3 separate regions of the Homo sapiens genome follow, and regions 2 and 3 are each linked to region 1. The links come from fine-mapping of genetic effects on gene expression. A gene starts in region 1. Each other region holds a variant in brackets. All regions are shown on one strand. Distances are from middle to middle. Region 1 holds the start of SNRPN (small nuclear ribonucleoprotein polypeptide N). Region 2 overlaps SNHG14 (small nucleolar RNA host gene 14). Region 3 overlaps SNHG14 (small nucleolar RNA host gene 14).

Evidence for each region. PIP is the estimated chance that this variant, and not a neighbour inherited with it, causes the effect. A credible set is the group of variants that fine-mapping cannot tell apart.
Region 2: its variant is the best candidate, but not a certain one, in a credible set for the expression of SNRPN in monocytes after LPS (Kim-Hellmuth 2017, PIP 0.53).
Region 3: its variant is the best candidate, but not a certain one, in a credible set for the expression of SNRPN in monocytes (TOPMed, PIP 0.62).

Annotation. Positions count from the first base shown.
Region 1 is chr15:24,953,494-24,956,257 of GRCh38, forward strand. It overlaps SNRPN (small nuclear ribonucleoprotein polypeptide N), which reads left to right and starts at 1,494. Exons shown (of 10, transcript NM_003097.6): 1 at 1,494-1,569. It overlaps SNURF (SNRPN upstream open reading frame), which reads left to right and starts at 1,494. Exons shown (of 3, transcript NM_001394334.1): 1 at 1,494-1,569. The coding sequence starts at 1,556. The region is part of intron 4 of SNHG14 (small nucleolar RNA host gene 14); the gene reads left to right. RefSeq lists enhancers at 1,909-2,474, 2,475-2,764.
Region 2 is chr15:25,038,514-25,041,277 of GRCh38, forward strand. All of the region lies in intron 23 of SNHG14 (small nucleolar RNA host gene 14), which reads left to right. Among named protein-coding and RNA genes, the nearest start is that of SNORD109A, 2.1 kb to the right of the region's middle. The variant TTA/T (reference allele first, on the strand shown) is at 1,549.
Region 3 is chr15:24,914,923-24,917,686 of GRCh38, forward strand. The region is part of intron 3 of SNHG14 (small nucleolar RNA host gene 14); the gene reads left to right. It also overlaps a transcript of SNRPN not described here. Among named protein-coding and RNA genes, the nearest start is that of SNRPN, 39 kb to the right of the region's middle. The variant A/G (reference allele first, on the strand shown) is at 1,254.

The sequences.
Region 1 (2,764 bases):
TTCTGTTTTTTGTAGAGATGGGTTTCACCATGTTGGCCAGGATGGTCTCGATCTCCTGACCTCGTGATCTGCCCACCTCGGCCTCCCAAAGTGCTGGGAATACAGGCGTAAGCCACTGTGCCCAGCCTACATTTTATTTTTCGATTGACTCCCGTGATCAGAGTCAACTTCCCATGTTATTTTATGTGAATATGTATCAATGAACTATTAGAAATTGCAATGTTTTTGTAGGTCAAAACAATTCAATATTGACAATTTTATATGATTCAGCCTAATACATCATTTTTTCCATCAGCCATATTGCATGTTATTATTTATATATACGTTTATTTAGTTAGCCTATCTGTTCTCTGTGAGGAACATTACACAGTTTCTGAGATTTTGTTACGATAGAAGTCAGCATTGATAAGCCTCTGCGCACCTGTTTTAATGTAGGATCATTGGGAACTGAGCAGTAGCTTACAGGGCTTGGGAGGGGATTTAACCATTTAGTCAACCTCCACTCACATCACCCTCCCTTCTTCGATAATGGGCAATTGAGAAAGGGCAAATGTGTGTAAAAACTATGCAGATGCAGTTTCAGGATTATTTTCTTCTTTTCTGCAGTGTCTTTTCCCAAGCTACATCAGCGTCTAAATTTTGGAGTTACTGATGCTTCCGTTATTTCTGCAGATAGAATATTATGTCGTAAATAATGTTTACTTGTCCATTAGTATTATATAAAAGTGCCTGTTTCTCCCCACTCCAGCTATCATTGATTATTGGTAAAAATTTTAATGTATCCAATTCTAATAGGCAAAGAAAGGCTCTCCTACTTAGATCTTAGGTGGGGGTCTAAGTTCATATTTTTGTTTTACAAAAATTGAATAGCCAGTGTTTTTGAGTTGAATGATCTATCCATTCCGTATAGGAGAGTTTAATTATATTGTGATTTTGGGGGAGATAATTTTCACAATTTACCCCCTCAAAATGTAGAAAGTAGAAAAAGGGTAGAAAAATCGCACCAAATTTGAACAATGTAGCATGCTTTTAGAGTTAGGGATATTTTCTTTTGGAAGGATTTCAAGTCTGGCGTATTTGCATTGATTGTGGTTATGGCGCATTTAACTTTTCCAAACCAGCTTTTTTGTACCGCACATAGGAAGACCTGAGGGTGAGTGTAAATTAGGATTGTTTGGCCAGTGGTGTGTGCAAAAATTTATTGTAGAACCAAGAATTATTTCTTTAGTATTTTACACATTTTAAAAAACAGGTAGACATGTCCATTGATCCCAGGTTGCTTATGGTTTCTAGAGGCCCCCTCTCATTGCAACAGTGCTGTGGGGCCCTAGGGGTCCAGTAGCCCCCTCCCCCCAGGTCATTCCGGTGAGGGAGGGAGCTGGGACCCCTGCACTGCGGCAAACAAGCACGCCTGCGCGGCCGCAGAGGCAGGCTGGCGCGCATGCTCAGGCGGGGATGTGTGCGAAGCCTGCCGCTGCTGCAGCGAGTCTGGCGCAGAGTGGAGCGGCCGCCGGAGATGCCTGACGCATCTGTCTGAGGAGCGGTCAGTGACGCGATGGAGCGGGCAAGGTCAGCTGTGCCGGTGGCTTCTCTCAAGAGACAGCCTGGGGAGCGGCCACTTTTATTCATCAGATATTCCAAGTTTTTAGGACTTGGAGTACTGAATAAACGGAATTTGGGCCCTAAAGTCCTTTGTTCTGGAGAACCAGATCCGGAATGTTCAGAGGCTTGCTGTTGTGCCGTTCTGCCCCGATGGTATCCTGTCCGCTCGCATTGGGGCGCGTCCCCCATCCGCCCCCAACTGTGGTGTCGCGACAGGTCCTATTGCGGGTGTCTGCGGTGGGAAGGGCGGTGGTGACTGGGAGCATGCGGGGTAACCGCAGTGGGCAAGGGACATGGGTGGAGGTGGGTACATCAGGGTGATTGCAGTTCCGTGTGGCGAGGGTACGTGGGGGGACCAGTGCATAGGGATTTTAGGCGGAGGTAGGTATATTGGAGTGATTGTGGCGGGGCGAAGGTACGTGAAGTGATCGGTATTTAGGGGGTGTTGAGCGCAGGTAGGTGTATAATAGTGACCACTGCGTGGTGGAGCAGGGTACGTGGGGCGACTGGGGGGGGAATTCGTCGCAGTGACCGAGGCGAGGAGGCTATGGCAGTGGACCAGGGGGATGAGTCGGTGTGACAGTGGTGGGGGTTGTGTTGGTGGTCGCGGCGCGGGGAGAGTCCGTAGGAAGTGGCTGGGAGGTAGGGGGAAGGCGGCGACAGTGGGTATTGGCGGCGGTGGGCATTGGCAGCGGGTAGGCATGGCGGTGGTGGACTTTGGCGGCGGTAGGCATGGCGGCGGTGGGCATGGCATGGAGGCGGTGGGCATGGCGGCCGCGGGGCCTGTCGCTGTCCGGAGTGACTAAGGGACGCTGAATGATTGCTGTGTAGAGGAGGGGGCATCAGAAGGGGCAGTAGCACAGTCCGCAGCCTTTAATTTTCCTGTGACCTGCGATGGTCATCTGGTTTGCCTACTGTGGTGGTGGTGCTTTTTTATTAAAACTGCGCAATGCCTACACTGCCGCAGGGGCTGCAGAAATGCGTGGAATCCTTGCGTACCCTTTAGGAACCCTCGCTTTAGAGGCTATGGCATAAGAAGACTGGAATGATGTGCAGAACTTGCATTTACAGATCTTTTGACTGATAGGCCAGGTGATGCCTGGGGGTTACTTTTTTTTCATTGTTTCTCTCTGTTGGGAACCAGGTCTTGGAAGGCTATGTC
Region 2 (2,764 bases), 85 kb after region 1:
GCCTAAGTTATATAATTGCCTGAGGTTATATAACAGAAAATTCTTGTTTTTAAGAAATTAAAACAATTTAAAGGATAAAGGGATAATGTCATAGCTGTAATTTTCCAAGCATTTGGATAAAATAATATACATGTTTCAAAAAAAAAATGAAACAGATGTTGTAAGATGTTAGCAAATAGGGAATCCAGGTGGAAATAATCCAGGAATTATGGATAGTCTTGTATCTGTTCAGCAGGTCTGAAAGTAGTTGATGAAAATAATGCAAAAGAACATGTCAAAAAGAAATGGTTTGGGCATATGGCTTCAAGCATACATAAATGCTCAGGAAACATGAAAATGTGAAATAAATGGATGAGTACTATAATACCAGCAGGCCTTGTAGATACCTGCATTTGAAGCATTTATATTAGAAGGAAGCCTTTTTACCCAGAATTTTTTTCACTTAGCCTAATGTTTTCAAGGTTTGGCCATGTTGCAGCATATATCAGATCTCCATTTTTTTTGATGGAGGAGTGATATTCTATTGTATAAATATATCACATTTTGCTCATCCACTCACTAGTTTTTGGCTATTATGACTAATCCCGCCAGGAATATTTATGTGGAGGTTTTTGTGTGTTTATGTTTTCAATTCTATTATACATGAGAATATAGTAACTGTGTTTATTTGACATTTTGAGGACCTGTCTGTAAGTGATGTTTAAGATAATTTTTGTTACATTTGAAGGCAGATAATAGTCTATGCAAAATGAATATTCTGTTGAATATTGATGTGAACTATTCTTATTGTAAAAAAAAAGTTACATTGAAATAGTAAGTATAGAAGTTATATCTTGGTGGCGGGGCGTGGTGGCTCATGCCTGTAATCCCAGCACTTTGGGAGGCCGAGGCAGGTGGATCACAGGGTCAGGAGATCGAGACCATCCTGGCTAACATGATGAAACCCCATCTTTACTAAAAATACAAAAAATTAGCTGTGCGTGGTGATGAGCGCCTGTAGTCCCAGCTACTCAGGAGGCTGAGGCAGGAGAATCACTTGAACCCAGGAGGCGGAGCTTGCAGTGAGCTGAGATTGTGCCACTGTACTCCAGCCTGGGTGACAGAGCGAGACTCTGTTTCACCCAAAAAAAAAAAAAAAAAAAAAAAAAAGTATTGGTTTTTGTACTCAACAAGCAGTTTTATGTTTTTATTTTTCAGGAACTCTCCAATACTGAATTCAGGCTGGGATATTAGAGAAAAGGAAAATACATGAAACTCAGTGGTGTTTTATGGCACTTTGAGTTCCCCAATTCACCTTCAAACATTTAGCCTTCCAAGTTCTCTGCCACCGTATCAGTGCATCCCTCCTGAGATTCTTAATTCTTTGATTGTGTAAAGATGGACTATGCTTACTCCATCTTACTTCTCTTAGGTCTTACAATGGAAGTGCCCTATTACATTTTGTTCTTTTCTATGATTTCCAATTATTTTATGAAATTTTTCATTTATTTTTTCTGTTCTTTCTATCTTTAATTTCTATGTAACTTTTTGAAATAGATCTCAAAGATT[TTA/T]TATATATATATATATATATATATACACACACACACAGAGAGAGAGATATATATCTACTGTACTATTGAAGTAGATTCCTAAAGTTTTTATCTCTTCTAGAATATTGGTTTCACAACACCCCTATTATGTGTATTTAATTTTACCCACCACATGGCGTTTTCAAAAAGTCTTTATTTGGCGGAATACAACTTCAGAATCTGATTCGAAGAGAAAATTGCTCACAGCCGTGAGCCACTGTGCCTGGCCGATTTTTACTATTTAAAGAAGGAAGAATTTTAGCAGCGTGGGGTGGCTCATGCCTGTAATCCCAGCACTTTGGGAGGCTGAGGTGGGCGGATCACTTGAGGCCAGTAGTTCAAGAACAGCCTGGCCAACATGACGAAACCCCATCTCTACTAAAAATACAAAAATTAGCCAGGCGTGGTGGCACGTGCCTGTAGTCCCAGCTACTCGAAGGCTTAGGCAGGAGAATCGCTTGAATCAGAGACAGGGAGGCTGCAATGAGCCGAGATTGCACCACTGCACTCCAGCCTGGGCGACAGTGCAAGACTCCATCTCAAAAATAAAGAGGAATTGGAGGAGGAAATAAATGAATAAATGACAAAGGTGACAAAGGACCAAAGATCTGTGACTTGTGCAAAGATTGCTCTGTGGTAATTATTACAGAAACAATGTTTGTATCTTATTTTTTAGGGAATTTTGTATATTGTCTAATCTGATTTACTTTGTTTTTAATAGTTTGCTGCAGGTCTAGAAGATGTCACAGAATTTCAAGGAAGAGAGGTGAGCAGCTGCTGTGGTGATTTTGAAATTGTTTGTGTGTGTTGTGGCCAGTGATGTCAGAATTTCAGGATCTGAGAGTTCATGATTTTAGAGGCTCAAAGGAGAATATTTTTATAACTTTTTTCTATAATTTTTTTATAATTTTTTTATATATTTTTTATAATATTTTATAATTTTTTTTGCTATGTGAGTATCCCTACTTTGTTCAAGGAATCTCATTATCTTTTCCCTTTTTTTAAAAAGGGATTTTTTTGTAGTAACCTGAATAAATTGGGGGAAGTATTGATATATTTCCTTTTCTCACCATTTTTTGTTGGATGAAAATAATCTTTTAGTGAAATTCAGTGTATTAAATATTTATTTTTTAAAGTCTAGAGATGGGGTCATGCTGTGTTTCCCAGGCTGCCCTTGAACTCCTGGGCTCAAGCAA
Region 3 (2,764 bases), 39 kb before region 1:
GGGGTGTAGTGGGTGAAGGAATGGAAAATTACTAAAAGGAAACATCAGGGATAAGGGGGATTCTGGCTAAACTGACACCTAACAAGATTCTTGTTAAAGATGGGCCAGAGTGGTCATGTATCACTTGGAAGATGGTGGAAGATGAACCTGATCAGATATCAAGGGTGATCAGATATCAAGGAGAAGAGGGTTCTTTTTTATATTTATTTATTTATTTATTTTTGAGACAGAGTCTCGCTCTGTCATCCAGGCTGGAGTGTAGTGGCGTGATCTCGGCTCACTGTAACCTCCGCCTCCTGGGTTCAAGTGATTCTCCTGCCTCAGCCTCCTGAGTAGCTGGGATTACAGGCGTGCACCACCATACCCGGCTAATTTTTGTATTTTTAGTAGAGATAGGGTTTCACCATGTTGGTCAGGCTGGTCTCAAACTCCTGACATCGTGATCTGCCCGCTTCGGCCACCCAAGGTGCTGGGATTATGGGGGTGAGCCACCTTGCCCGGCCGAGAAGAGAGTTCTTGATAAACAGACTTCCTTGTTAAAACTAGATTTTATAATGAGGTCCACAGATGGGTGGAGGAGAAGCCTGAGTAAATTTTGGTTAAGCAGAGAAACTTTGTCATCCCTCCTGTATGCATTATGCTCCCTTTTCTCCAGTGGAGCTCTCTTCAACCTTGATGTTATTGTCCAATCAGTTTGTTTTCCCAGTGTTGATGTTCTGATTTCATCCTACAAAAATATAGCATAAACTTGTATTTGTTGCATTCTACAACATAAGCCTGACAATATAACAAACTGTTCCCAAAGTTATAAATTCCTCGTCTTTTTATTTGTAATTTGACTTTTAAAAATCTATGTAATTATAGAAGAATGTTGCTACTATAAAAATTTTAAGGGGTGGCAGGGAATAATTCCAAAATTATAAAACTCCTTGTGACAAATTTAGGAATGATATTCAGCTAGTTCTATAGTTTTTTATTCCTTGAATAATCAGCGATATACATCTGATTATATACACACATTGTGGTTTTTTTTTGGCCAGGTTGACTTTTTTTTTTTTTTTTTTTTTGAGATGGAGTCTCACTCTGCCACCCAGGCTGGAGTGCAATGGCACAATCTCGGCTCACTGTAACCTCTGCCTCCCGGATTCAAGTGATTCTCCTGCCTCAGCCTCCCATTACAGGCACCCGCCACCAAGCCTGGCTAACTTTTGTATTTTTAGTAGATAATGGGGTTTCACTACGTGGGCCGGGCT[A/G]GTCTTGAACTCCTGACCTCGTGATCCACCCACCTCGGCCTCCCAAAGTGCTGGGATTACAGGCGTGAGCCACCGCGCCCAGCCTTGGTTGACTTATTCTTTTAAGGAGCAATGTGGGTTAATGTTTCAAAGTGAAAAAATTTAAAAACTTAGGGGAAAGTGGGGGGAGAGAGAGACAAAGACAGAGACAGAAAGAGAGACAGAGTGAGAGATGGAGAGAGATCAGATAGGTACATAAGCTTAGTGACTCAGCCTGTAGTCCCAGTTACTTAGGAGGCTAAGGCAGGAGGATTGCTTGAGCCCAGAAACTCAAGTTTTCAGTGAGCAGTGATCTGCAACACTGCACTCCAGCCCATGTGATAGAACCAGATCGTCTCTAGAAGAAAAAAAAAGAAGAAAAAAATACATATACATACATACATTGGTGTTTGTTTCTACATATGCTTCATAGTATATGTGTACATGGATTATAGGTAGATCATATAATGGTAACAGTATTAAATTAGGTGTCAGCATTTGTTGAGGAAGTAGTACGCTCGTGTTTGAAATTTTAATTAAGAATTGTGTACGGAGTTGGTTCCTTCCGGTGGGTTTGTGGGTTTGTGGTCTCACTGACTTCAAGAATGAAGCCACAAGCCTTCTGAACCTTCGTGGTGAGTGTTACAACTCTTAAAGGTGGCACAGACCCAAGGAGTGAGCCGCAGCAAGATTTATTGTGAAGATCGAAAGAACAAAATTTCCACAGCATAGAAGCAGACTGAGCAGGTTGCCACTGGTGGCTGGGGTGGAGTGGCCAGCTTTTATTCCTTATTTGTCCCCACCCATATCCTGCTGATTGGTCCATTTTACAGAGTGCTGACTGGTCCATTTTACAGGGTGCTGATTGGTCCATTTTACAAACCTCTAGCTACAGAGCATCGATTGGTGCATTTTTACAGAGCACTGATTGGTGCATTTTACAAACCTGTTGTAAGACAGAAAAGTTCTCCAAGGCCCCACCTGACCTACGAAGTCCAGGTGGCTTCATCTCTCAGAATCAGCTTTTAAAGGCCATAAATTTCCAGGTAAGTAGGAATAGAAGAAATGAACATTTCCTTTGAGATCTATGATGTCATATTTTTTTCTCCATCAACGATTTAGTTCCTTCTGGATCAAATACTTTTTAAATGGATGTATGTTTTATAGTAGATGTTATGTTGTCTTAATTATTTTAAAACTCCTATTCCTGGACTCTCCTGAAGAGGAGAATTTAGTAATTTCGAAGTATTTTTTGAGGCTAGGGAAGAAAAACCAAGATTACTGCATAAGGTTTCAGGGGATGTTCCATGCCTGCCACCTGGTGAAAATGAGGGAGCTTTCCTCCTACCTGCCACCATTACACCTGCCTGCAGGTAATAACGCCATCATTTCAACGCGGCCTGGGGTATTCTGGGAAGGTGACGTGTGGGGGCGCAGTGACCGCTAGCAGGGGCCAAACCCGCCCTGGTCTGCGCTGCAGTGCGCAGTGAGGA